Regions from separate parts of the Homo sapiens genome. Here region 2 is linked to region 1. Evidence: fine-mapped expression QTL. A gene starts in region 1. The other region holds a variant in brackets. All regions are shown on one strand. Distances are between the middles of the regions.

Region 1 (5,372 bases):
GGAGGTGTAGTCCCTGTCTGCAAACGGGTCATAGTCCAGCAGAAAGGCTTGGACACAAACAATGATAAGGGCTATCCTAGAGGTATCAATCTTCCAAGGTATGCTGGGATCATAGGAAAAACATGACCCAAGTTTGTCTGGGAGAATCAAGGAAACCTTGACCTAGGAGGCAATGCATAAGCTGTGATTTGAAGAAAGAACAGAATTTCACTGGGCTGGTCAAAGAACTGGTCAGAGAAGAGGGTGGGAGTATTTCAAGTTGCATAGAGAATGTGCTGCATACATGTGCCATAAAGAGAGCCATCAATCATTGCTTGGAGTCACTAGCTGCCCGTGTGTCTTTCTCTAGATTTCTGTGTCAAGGCCCCTTGAGGCCTAAGCAGGATACCCCTCCTCTCCCTGAAAGAGCTACCATCTGGAGAATTCACAGGAAATCCCATGGCAGAGAAGACAGTTGGTCAATCAAAAGTAGCACATGTACATTTCAAGGGGGAAATAGCTAGGAAAGAGCAAGCCCACAACAGCTGAACACATCAGAAACCCAAAATGTTTTAAAGGCTTTTATAAAATAGAGCTTCATGCCACTCCAGATTTATGATGCTGGAAGATGGCACATGCTTGTCCTGGTTGCTTCATCAGTAACTGCACTGAGGTCACTAGGTCACCCCACCTTGGCCAAGACACGGGTCACTGTGGCATTTCCAGGACCCTTGAGACCAGGCTGGGAGCACTGGAGTATGAGCCTTTGGTAGAGGCCCCAGTACAGCAGGCAGCTTCAGAACCCTCCCCTCAAAGCCAGCAACAGACATCTTCAAGCAACCAAACCCAAAGCAAACTGTCATCAATGCCCAACTGCAATAGCTTTTTCCCCAGATGAGTGAGAAGGGTTTCCAGGTGTGTGTGTGTTGTGTATATGTATGTGTGTTGTGTGTATGTATGTATGCAGTATGCATTGGGTATATATGCATTTAAGTGTATATGTTGGTATACATGTATGTTCATGTATATGTGTGTTGTATGTGTAGTGTGTGTGTGTGTTTGTGTATATGTGTGCTTGTACATGTGTGACTGTGTGGATGTATGTATGTGGGTGAGTGGGAAATGAGGGGCTCAGAGGTCCTCTTCTCCAGAGACCAGATGCAGGGAGTCATCACGCTGTAAGGGTGCCCTCAGGTCAGTGGGGAGGGAAAGCCCATCCCAGCACTGCTTCTCTCCTGCTTGGAAACCCACAGCTCATTCAACAGATCTGGCCAAATTGCCCCTAATTCATCATTACAAAGACGGTAAAACTCCTCTCCACACCCAAATCTCTGCTTCCCCAAGCCTCCTCTCCCCAAAGGATACACACGTTGGTCCTTCTTCCACTGGAGCATCCTCCCACCCTTGGAGTCCCTTCACACTGCCTCCACCACCAAATTCTACTCTCCGGATAATGTCTGGAAAACCCCTTTATCTCATGGAGTAATGGGGCTCCAAGTGTTCCCTGTCCCAGCAAGGGGAATGGGAAAGATGGAGTCTCCTGTCCCTGGAAGTCCTACTCCCCCTTCCCACCCTCTTGGAGAGCTGTGCTTGGCAGACTGGGCCAGGGCTGAGCAGTAGGCACTTCCAGGGAAGGGGCTGGGACACACATGGGATGTCCCTAAGAGGCTGAGGGGAGGATTGTCGCACTGAGCCTACCCTGCTCGCAATGCCTCAACACACATACTCATTACATACAACACATGCACATACACACACACACAAAACACACCAACCACACACCACATCTAGAAACCCTGATATCCATCCACACATCAACACATGCATTTCAAACCCAGGACTCACTAAGTGCACACATACACACACGGAACATACACGTCACCATAGACACTACATCCTGCATGCACCACACTCTAATGGCCACAGCACGCCACCCGCAGACATGCTCACATTCAAGAGTTTCACAGAAATGCCCATTCACACATACACAATGCACATCCTACGCACACCCAATACTTGGCACCACACTCGCAATCGTGTTCAAATGCCCACACTACACAGCAACTCGCTCTCTCTACAGCCCATCTCACACCCTCAGGAGTCCTCTCACCCCTGTCTACACTGGGGCCACATCAGCACAATGGTTATACTACTTATCTCTCCCACAAGCCCATACACCTGAGCACATCTGTACAGCGCATCCCCATCCCGCTCCCCACCACACCCCACCCCCGCACCCGGCCGACTCCAGCAAGAGGCTTCCCGCTCGGTGTGCAGCGGCCACAGTGGCCAGGAATTAAAATGCAGCGAGGAGGAGCCGGGCGCGTCAGCACCGCGTCTCCAGGAGCGCACGGCGCTCACGGCCGCCGCCGCCCCGCCCGCCCGGAGCCGCGGGGCCAGCGAGCTGAGGAGCAGGTGCTCGGAGCCCAGCCGCGCCAGCGTCGCGCGGCCGCTGCCCAAGTTCGCCTGGGGCCCAAAGAGGGTTCTCCCGGGCAACCGGGGAAGGAGCTTAGCCGGCGTCACGGCCACCGCGAGCTCGGAGTCTCGAGAGGAGAAGGGCGCGCGGAGCAGCGAGTCCGGGTCACCCCCGGGAGGTGTTGGCGGGTCCCCGCAGTCCCCAGCTCTTGTCGCCGCGGGGGCAGAGAGAAGACGCGAGAGACAGCAAGGCTGGGCTTTTCTGGAGACGCGAGGCACCTGGGAGAGCCGAGGCGAGAAGCGACACTTCCCTGCGGCTAGCATCCTTGAAGGACCCCGGCGGCGAACAGCCTCCCGCAGGACGCCCTGAGAAGCTCTCAGCCCCAGGCGAGAGCGGGCGCCTGGCAGGACTTAGGCGCAGGACTTGGGGAAGCCTAAGCAGGTCTCTGCCGAGCGCAGCCCAGGGAGCAGTAACAAGGAAGGGTCCTGGAGGGGAAGGGAAAGAAGGCGGCAGCCGGCAAGGCGACCACTCACCCCCGTACACACCCACCCCGCCCGCCCAGCCAGGAGCCGCGGTGCGCCTCTGGGGGCGCTCGTTCCTTGGCGCCTTCTCTCCCGTGTCCCAGCACCGCTGGGCTACGGGCCGGGCTGGTGGGGTCCCTGGGGATGTCCAGATCAGGCATGGTGGCCGAGTGGCCCTTCTCCCAGGACCAGCGTAAAAGCTGGGGTTAGGCGGGGCAGGGGGGACTCGGCTCAGGGTCCCCCGAGGTCCAGGACGAGGGAAGGCGGGCGCAGCACCCAGGGACTGGAGAGGCGGCTCCCAGTGGGACCCCTCCAGAAGTAGTGCCGGGCGCCGGGCATCCTCCAGGAAGACCAGGGGCCGGGAAAGCCTGGGAGGCGCTCGGGAGAGGCCACTGCCAGGGGCTGCGGGCTGAGGCGGCGCTCAGCCCCGGGCGGGCGCCCGCGGAGGCGGCAGCGGCGGCGCCGGGCGGGCATGCCGCGCCACCGGAGCTCCTTTCGGGCGCACGCTTCCCTGGCGCGGGCTGCGCGCGGCTGCCGCTGCTGCTGCTTCCACTGCTGCTGCGGACTCCCATGGCGGCTCCGCCCGGCCGGGGCCGCCGCCGCTGCCGCCAGCCGCGGGCTGAATGAATGAGCCGGATTGGCGGAGCCGGGCTGCCCGCAGCCGCGCTCACCGGCCCGGGACGCTTCCGCATGGCCCGCGAGGAGCCGGCGCCCGCGGCGTTGGCGGCTGCCGGGCAGCCCGGGGGCGGCAGAGGCGGCGAGCGGGCGCTGCAGGGGCCAGGGGTCGCCCGCAGGGGGCGGCCATCGCTGAGCCGCGCTAAACTGCACGGGCTGCGGCACATGTGTGCCGGGCGCACGGCGGCTGGGGGCTCCTTCCAGCGGCGGGCGCTGTGGGTGCTGGCCTTCTGTACATCCTTCGGCTTGCTGCTGTCCTGGTCCTCGAACCGCTTGCTCTACTGGCTCAGCTTCCCGTCACACACGCGGGTGCACCGCGAGTGGAGCCGCCAGTTACCCTTCCCCGCCGTCACTGTGTGCAACAACAACCCGCTGCGCTTCCCGCGCCTCTCCAAGGGGGACCTCTACTATGCCGGCCACTGGCTCGGGCTGCTGCTGCCCAACCGCACCGCGCGCCCGCTTGTCAGCGAGCTGCTGCGGGGCGACGAGCCGCGCCGCCAGTGGTTCCGCAAGCTGGCGGACTTCCGCCTCTTCCTGCCTCCGCGCCACTTCGAGGGAATCAGCGCCGCCTTCATGGACCGCCTGGGCCACCAGCTGGAGGACATGCTGCTCTCCTGCAAGTACCGCGGCGAGCTCTGCGGGCCGCACAACTTCTCCTCCGTGAGTTGCCCTCCGCGCGAACCCGCTCCCTCTGCGCCCCACTCCCCGGCAGTCAGGAGGCCTGGTGTTCCGCCCCCTCGGGGCTGTCCCCAGGCCTCTTGCAGTGTTACCACTCCACGATGCCAAGGCAGAACCCATTCTTGGGTCCCCTGAGTCTTCTCCTGCAGGTTGTGGGAACTTGGACTTAACTGTAGGAGGAGTCGCCTCCCACCAGTGGGAGCTCCCCTGTCCCAGCCCCTCCTTCCAGTGTCAGCCCCCAAAGCCCTCATTCTACTCCTTATGGTCCCGTCTGTGAATATTAGTCAGCCTCCTTCTTCCCGACCTCAACTCCAGGCCCTCAGGACTCCAAGAAACTGCTCTGTGTTTGGAGTGTAGATCTCTTAAGTGCGGACTTCTTGTCTTTGGGAAAACCAATAGACGGCTCTTAAAAAAAAAAAAAAAAAAAAGGAAGCGCTTGAAAAATGGATCATCAGGGGAATCACGCAGAGTCCCTAAGCAGGCCTACGATCCGAAGCAGCTTATGTCTTCAAAGTTCCCAAACACTTAGAATCTAGGAGAACTTGTGAGGAAACTCCCAGAAAACCAACACTGAAGCTGTAGACAGTTTGGTGGGAGAGGCAGCAGCATGCTTTGGCTACTTTTTCAAAATGCAGGAGTCTTGAGCATCCAGCGGAACTGAGCAGTGGTGCGCCAGGGTTGGGCCCTTCACCTGGCCTCCGTCCCCCATAAAATGTAAGTGTGGGTCTTCTGGTCTGGAGGATTGCTCCGGAGTTGAGAAAGCATCCTAGCAGGCATGTGGATGCAAACAGCCGCGGCCAGGAGAAGCTGTGCTTAGGGTTTGTAAACCATTTGCTGTGCCGGTTCCCCCACGCTGTGGGTCTGGATAACGCAGCTGTTGGACAGAAGGTATCTGCCTTGTGCAGTCTGCCTTGGAGGAGTTCTGGTGCCAGGCCCCAGCATGATGCATGCCTGTCCAGCCATTCGTGTGTAAATGTCCCTTAGGTGGGTTTGGGCTTTTCCACTAGTGCAGGGAAGGTTGGTGTGTGTGTTTATTGGTAGTGCTATGATGGTGATTTTACCAGATCTGATTCATCACTCCTGAGATCCTCATTTCTGACAAA
Region 2 (5,372 bases), 62 kb before region 1:
AGCTGGGGATTAGGTGGTGCCTCAGTTTACTCCAGAGGGCCCCGTTCTCAACGTGCGGTCCCCAGATCACTGGCTGGTCTCTACCATAATTACAATCTTCTGAAGTAAACTCCCTGGAGGAACTGTTAAAGCATAGGTTGCTGGGCTCTACCTCCAGGGGATTCTGATGCTCAAAGAAGTTTGAGAACCACCGATCTAGACGGTCCCTAATCCCTAAGCTGTTCCCTGTTGGAAGATGAGGAAAGAAGTCCCGCTTCCTTCCTCCCAGAGGTTGGGACGTTCTGGAGATGTCTTGCTCTGTAACAGTCTTCATGCAGCAGCAGCAGTGAGCAACAGACACACACCCCCAGCATCCCCTTGGATCCCTAAGCTGCATCAAGCCCGTGATTGCAGAGCCAAAGAATAATAGCTCATTTTCCAAAGACCTAATTACATAATGAGATCTTCATGCTCCTCGGGACTGAGGCGCTCCATCCAAATTGTGCAGCCAGGTGTTGGCCCTGAGTGCACTGGGTTGGGGGCCTCATTTGAATACTATTAAGACAAGAGGTTAACACGCTCCGTGTTAAAAGTGCTGTCTGTAGTGGTGGCCTTTCTAGTTCCCCTTCCTGCTCCATCCAGGTGGCACACAGAAGATAGTAATTATGGTGGAGACCAGCCAGTGAGCCTAGGAATGCAGATTGCACCCACATCATCAGGGAGGGGTGTGCTTGTGTTTCTGGTCCAATGTCCGCCCAGCATGAATGCCTTTCCTCTTGCATAGCCTCAGAATCTGGAGGTGGTTCAGGGGTGGGAAAGCCCTGGGACATAGATCTGAAGCCTGGCCCCACTGCTAACCAACTGGGAGAACTTCCTTGAGCCCCTGAATTTTCTTGAGTTCTATCTGAATAAAATGGAATGATGATCCATGCCTTATAGGGTTGTCCTGAAGCCTTAATAGAAAAGAATTAATTAAAGTACCTGGCCCAGCACTTTCTATAATCAGGCCAGGTGTCACTCAGGGGCCAGCCTCATCACTCACTGCTACCCTACCCCTATCCTTCACACCTGCCTTGGTGAATCAGTGAATGATGTGGAGTTCTCTAACTTTTACACATGCTGTTTCTCTGACTTAAATACTCTTCACGCTTATCCCCTACTCTGGGTTGTCTCCTACTCATTTGTCAGGCCTCATCTTGGAAGTCACTTCCTCCAGGAAGCCTTCCCTGACCACTACCCCTAGCTCCAGGTCTAGGTTCGTTTACCCTTCTCTGGGATCCCTTTTCCCCTGATCATTCCTACTTCAGTACTGATTATACTGTCTCAATTCCCCTTACACTTTAAGCTCTGAGCAAACAAGAAACTTTGCCTCGTTCACAGCTGTAGCCCCATTGCCTAGCAATTAGTAGGTATGCAAAAAATGTTGAAAGAATGAATGAATAGTAGATAAACAGTAAATGTTGAATGAATAAACAGATCTTACCAGGGCTCAGGCTATGATTAGGATAAAGTCAATCCAATTCAGCAAACATTTATGAAACTTCTACTATTTATCAAGGGTTGTTATGGGAACAGAGGAAACCAAGATAGATAAAATATGCTCCTTACAATCAAATAATTTACAATCTTAAAAGCTGTGCATTTAAGAAATTCAAAAGGGAGGAAGGAGCCTGGGTCTTTAAAGCCCCCGCCCCCATCTAAACACCCCCATGCCAAATCCTGCTCCAGAAAATTTCTCAGGACACTATGCAATGGAAACCTAGGCACTGCTTTACTGTTTTTTGCTCAGATGGGCTTTGACCCCCAGACTGCTTCTCTGAATCTGTTTCTCACATTCTCACATTCCTGTACATGGGCTTCATTGCTTTTTCTTTTTTGAAACGGAGTCTTGTGTTGTCCACGCTGGAGTGCAGTGGCACAATCTTGGCTCACTGCAACCTCTGCCTTTCCTGGGTTCAAGTGATTGTCCTGCCTCAGCTTCCCGAGTAGTTGGGACTACAAGCACATGCCACCACACCCAGCTAATTTTTATAACTTTAGTAGAGTTGGGGTTTCACCATGTTAGCCAGGCTGGTCTCAAACTCCTGATCTCAGGTGATCCACATTGCTTTTTGTTTTATCTGGCACCAATTAGCACTCCGAATATACACATACCCACACTTACACACATGGACACAACACAACTTGCTGTTTCCAACCAAGATTAATAAGCTGCATCTCCTGCCCACAGGCTGCTCCCAGTCTGTTAAGGGCAGCCCATGAATGTCAGCACGCATTCAGCAGATGTGTACTGGGTGCCTGCTCTCTGCTGGACATGGAAATAGGTGCACATGTGTGGGGACAGAGGCAGAGGGGAGAGGGCAATGGTAAATAAAAGGACAC[G/A]AGCTCTGCCTTCAAGTAATCATCCTAGGAGGCTGACAAACTGGGATAAATGCTGAGCATATAAACAGGGGAGCTGCCATAGGAGTGGAAACCAGGAGCAAAAGTGATGTTGAGTTGAGACTGGAAGGATGAGTAGGGGCCCATCAGATCCCTGGGAAAGCTGAAGAAAGAATGTTCCCAGTAGAGGAAGAGCCTGGGCCCAGGCTGGAGTGGGAAGGAACCCAGAGCACATAGAAGGACCACACTGCTGGAAAGCAGAGAGCAAGCAGGAAGCCATGGGGGTAGGGCTGCAGGGAGAGCTGGTGGAATAGACCTGGCTGAGGGTTTAGGCCTCTATCCCAAGAGCAGTGGGAAGTCACTGAAGGATCTTATGTGGGGGATAGCTTGGTCACATTTGCATAGTTATATTTCATGCTGGCTGCAGTGGAGGTGAGAAGACCAGTTAGGAAGCTATTGCTCTGGTCCAGGTGAGAGATGAGGGATCTCCTCCAGGGGGCTCATAGTGGGGATGGAGAGCATGAGGATGAGTGGATTTAAAGACCGTCATGAACCACCATTGGTAGAGATCTTGAGGAGACTCATGTGATATGGTTTGGCTCTGTGTCCCCAGCCAAATGTCATCTTGAATTGTGATAATTCCCACATGTTGTGGGACAGACTCAGTGGGAGGTAATTGAATCATGGAGGCAGGTCTTTTCCATGATGTTCTCATGATAGTGAATAAGTCTCACCAAATCTGAAGGTTTTATAAAGATGAGTTCCCCTGCATATGCCCTCTTGCCCGCACCATGTAAGACATGCCTTTGCTCCTCTTTTGCCTTCCAACATGAATGTGAGGCCTCCCCAGCCATGTGGAACTGTGAGTCCATTAAACCTATTTCCTTTATAAATTACCCAGTCTTAGGTATGTCTTTATTCACAGCAAGAGAATGGGCTAATACTCTAAGATACACATGGCAAGTATAGCCTTGATGGAGACCCTGTGCTTGGTCAGAGCAGCCCTGAAGAACATGTATTTAAAGATGAATTAATTGACTGAATCACTCTATTATAACACCCAAAGAACTGAGGATCATAAAAATGGTTCCAAGACCTATGGGACTCCTAGGAAGAAGAGGTCACTCCTGGATCCAGAATAGGAAGAGGAAAAAGTGACATTTGGCTGGGCCTTAAAGAATAAATAAGGTAAGGTTAGGCATGGTGGCTCACGCTTGTAATTCCAAAATTTGGGAGTCTGAGGTAGGAGGATCACTTGAGCCCAGGAGTTTGAGACCAGTCCTGGCAACATAGTGAAACCCTGTTTCTACAAAATTAAAAATATATATATTAGCCAGGTGCAGTGGCATATACCTGTAGTTTCAGCTACTCAGGAGGCTGAGGTGGAAGAATTGCTTGAACCCAGATCAAGGGTGCAGTGAGCAGTGATTGCACCACTGCACTCCAGCCTGGGTGACAGAGCAAGACCCTGTCTCAAAAACAAACAAAAAAGAATAGATAGAGACTTATGGGCATGAGACAGGTAGAGGTCGAGGGTCAAAAGTTCCCACCACGGCAATGGGCATGTTCAGTGCATGATTATGGAAGGGTGAATGTCTAAGTAAAATGCACTTTAAGGGAAACAGCTAACAGTTTGGTGGATCTGGAATGGAAAGAGTCTTAAAAATGCCAAATTAATGAGATTGAATATTATAGATTTAGGGAGCCATTCAATCACAATACAATTATTGAACCTGAATTTTGTGCAAGTATTGTGCTGGGCTCTGGGAATGCAAAGTCAGGACGCTTAAGGAGCTCAGAATCCAGTGGAGAGGCAGATGGGTAAATGTTATTGGTGCATCTCTACTGAAACAGTGCTACAGATATTAGCTCTGGGGTCGGGTATTGTGAAGAGTGAGGCTTGATCTGAACCTTGAAGAATGAGGGAGGGTTCACCCAACAGACCATGGGAAAGAGAAGGTAAGGGGCATGAGAGAAGGCCAGGAAGGGAAAGAGGGAGAGAAACTCTAACAGCCGAAGAGAAACTGCACAGGATGGAGCCTGAGAGGCAGCAGGTGAACGTGAGGACCTGCTGAGTGTTGAGGTGCATGCACCTTGCACACTGAAACTGAAAGCATGAGGGTGGTGTGGAGGCCAGCAAGGAAGGCAGCAGGAGTCAGTCATGGAGAACATCACAGGATTTTCTCCAGTCTTGCAAAGTTGGGAGGGTGGTTTGGACAATCCAGGGTCAAGACTATTGCAAGGTTTTGAGCCACAGAGTTCGATGGATGATAACTGAAATAAAGACAGATAGGGTCAGAAGGGTCTTCTGAGATCATCTTCTCTAAAGCTTCTCATTTTACAAAAGCAGGGAGAGCCATGTTAGTCAGCCCAGGCCTCATCATTAGTAAGAGGTGCAAGCACAAGGTAAGAAGGGCCTCCCATGTAGGGGGTGGCAGCCTTGGGGGGTAATGGGCTGGCTTCAAGTGCATCTCATGGAGGGGGCTCACTGGGCACTTCTGAGATATCTGGACTATTGTGCCTGAGGAGAGAACAGGGCTAGTCACCAAGATGGGTGACCTGGAAGGAGTGGGATGCAGTGTGAGTTCAGTTCTGGGCATGTTGATTTTGAAGTCCCTGCCAGGTATCCAGGTAAAGTCGAGATTCAGATGGAAGAAGTTGGAGATTTTAGCTACAGATAGAGACTGAGGAACCATGCTCAGAGGGGTGGCATTTGTAGCTGTGGGAGTGGAGGTGCTAACCCAGGGAGTAGGAAGCAAAGAGATGAAGACACAAGACAAAACACTCAAGGGGAGGACCATCTAGGAGGCTGAGGAGCAGACATCAGACAGGCGGTGAGTCCTGAGCATGCAGAAGGAAGAAGACAGCTAAAAACCTGAGCTGTCATTAGACTTGCTGCTGCTCACACAGTCTCAGCTGGGGAGTGGCAGGGCCAGAACCAAGAGGTTCCGACTCCCCCATCCTCATCCCCCAGCACTCCATGCCACATCTACATGTCTCTTCCTTCCCTGTTC

Direction of the effects. Positions count from the first base shown, and alleles are read on the strand shown. Sizes are in standard deviations (SD) of each study's normalised expression.
In carriers of allele G in region 2, the expression in tibial nerve of the gene that starts at base 2,364 in region 1 tends to be higher than with A alone (moderate effect, 0.61 SD a copy in GTEx).

What was found. PIP is the estimated chance that this variant, and not a neighbour inherited with it, causes the effect.
Region 2: its variant is fine-mapped to the expression of ASIC2 in tibial nerve (GTEx, PIP above 0.99).

The regions. Positions count from the first base shown.
Region 1 is chr17:33,290,287-33,295,658 of GRCh38, reverse strand. It overlaps ASIC2 (acid sensing ion channel subunit 2), which reads left to right and starts at 2,364. Exons shown (of 10, transcript NM_183377.2): 1 at 2,364-4,251. The coding sequence starts at 3,544. RefSeq lists a silencer at 3,167-3,337.
Region 2 is chr17:33,351,816-33,357,187 of GRCh38, reverse strand. It overlaps a transcript of ASIC2 not described here. Among named protein-coding and RNA genes, the nearest start is that of ASIC2, 61 kb to the right of the region's middle. The variant G/A (reference allele first, on the strand shown) is at 2,362.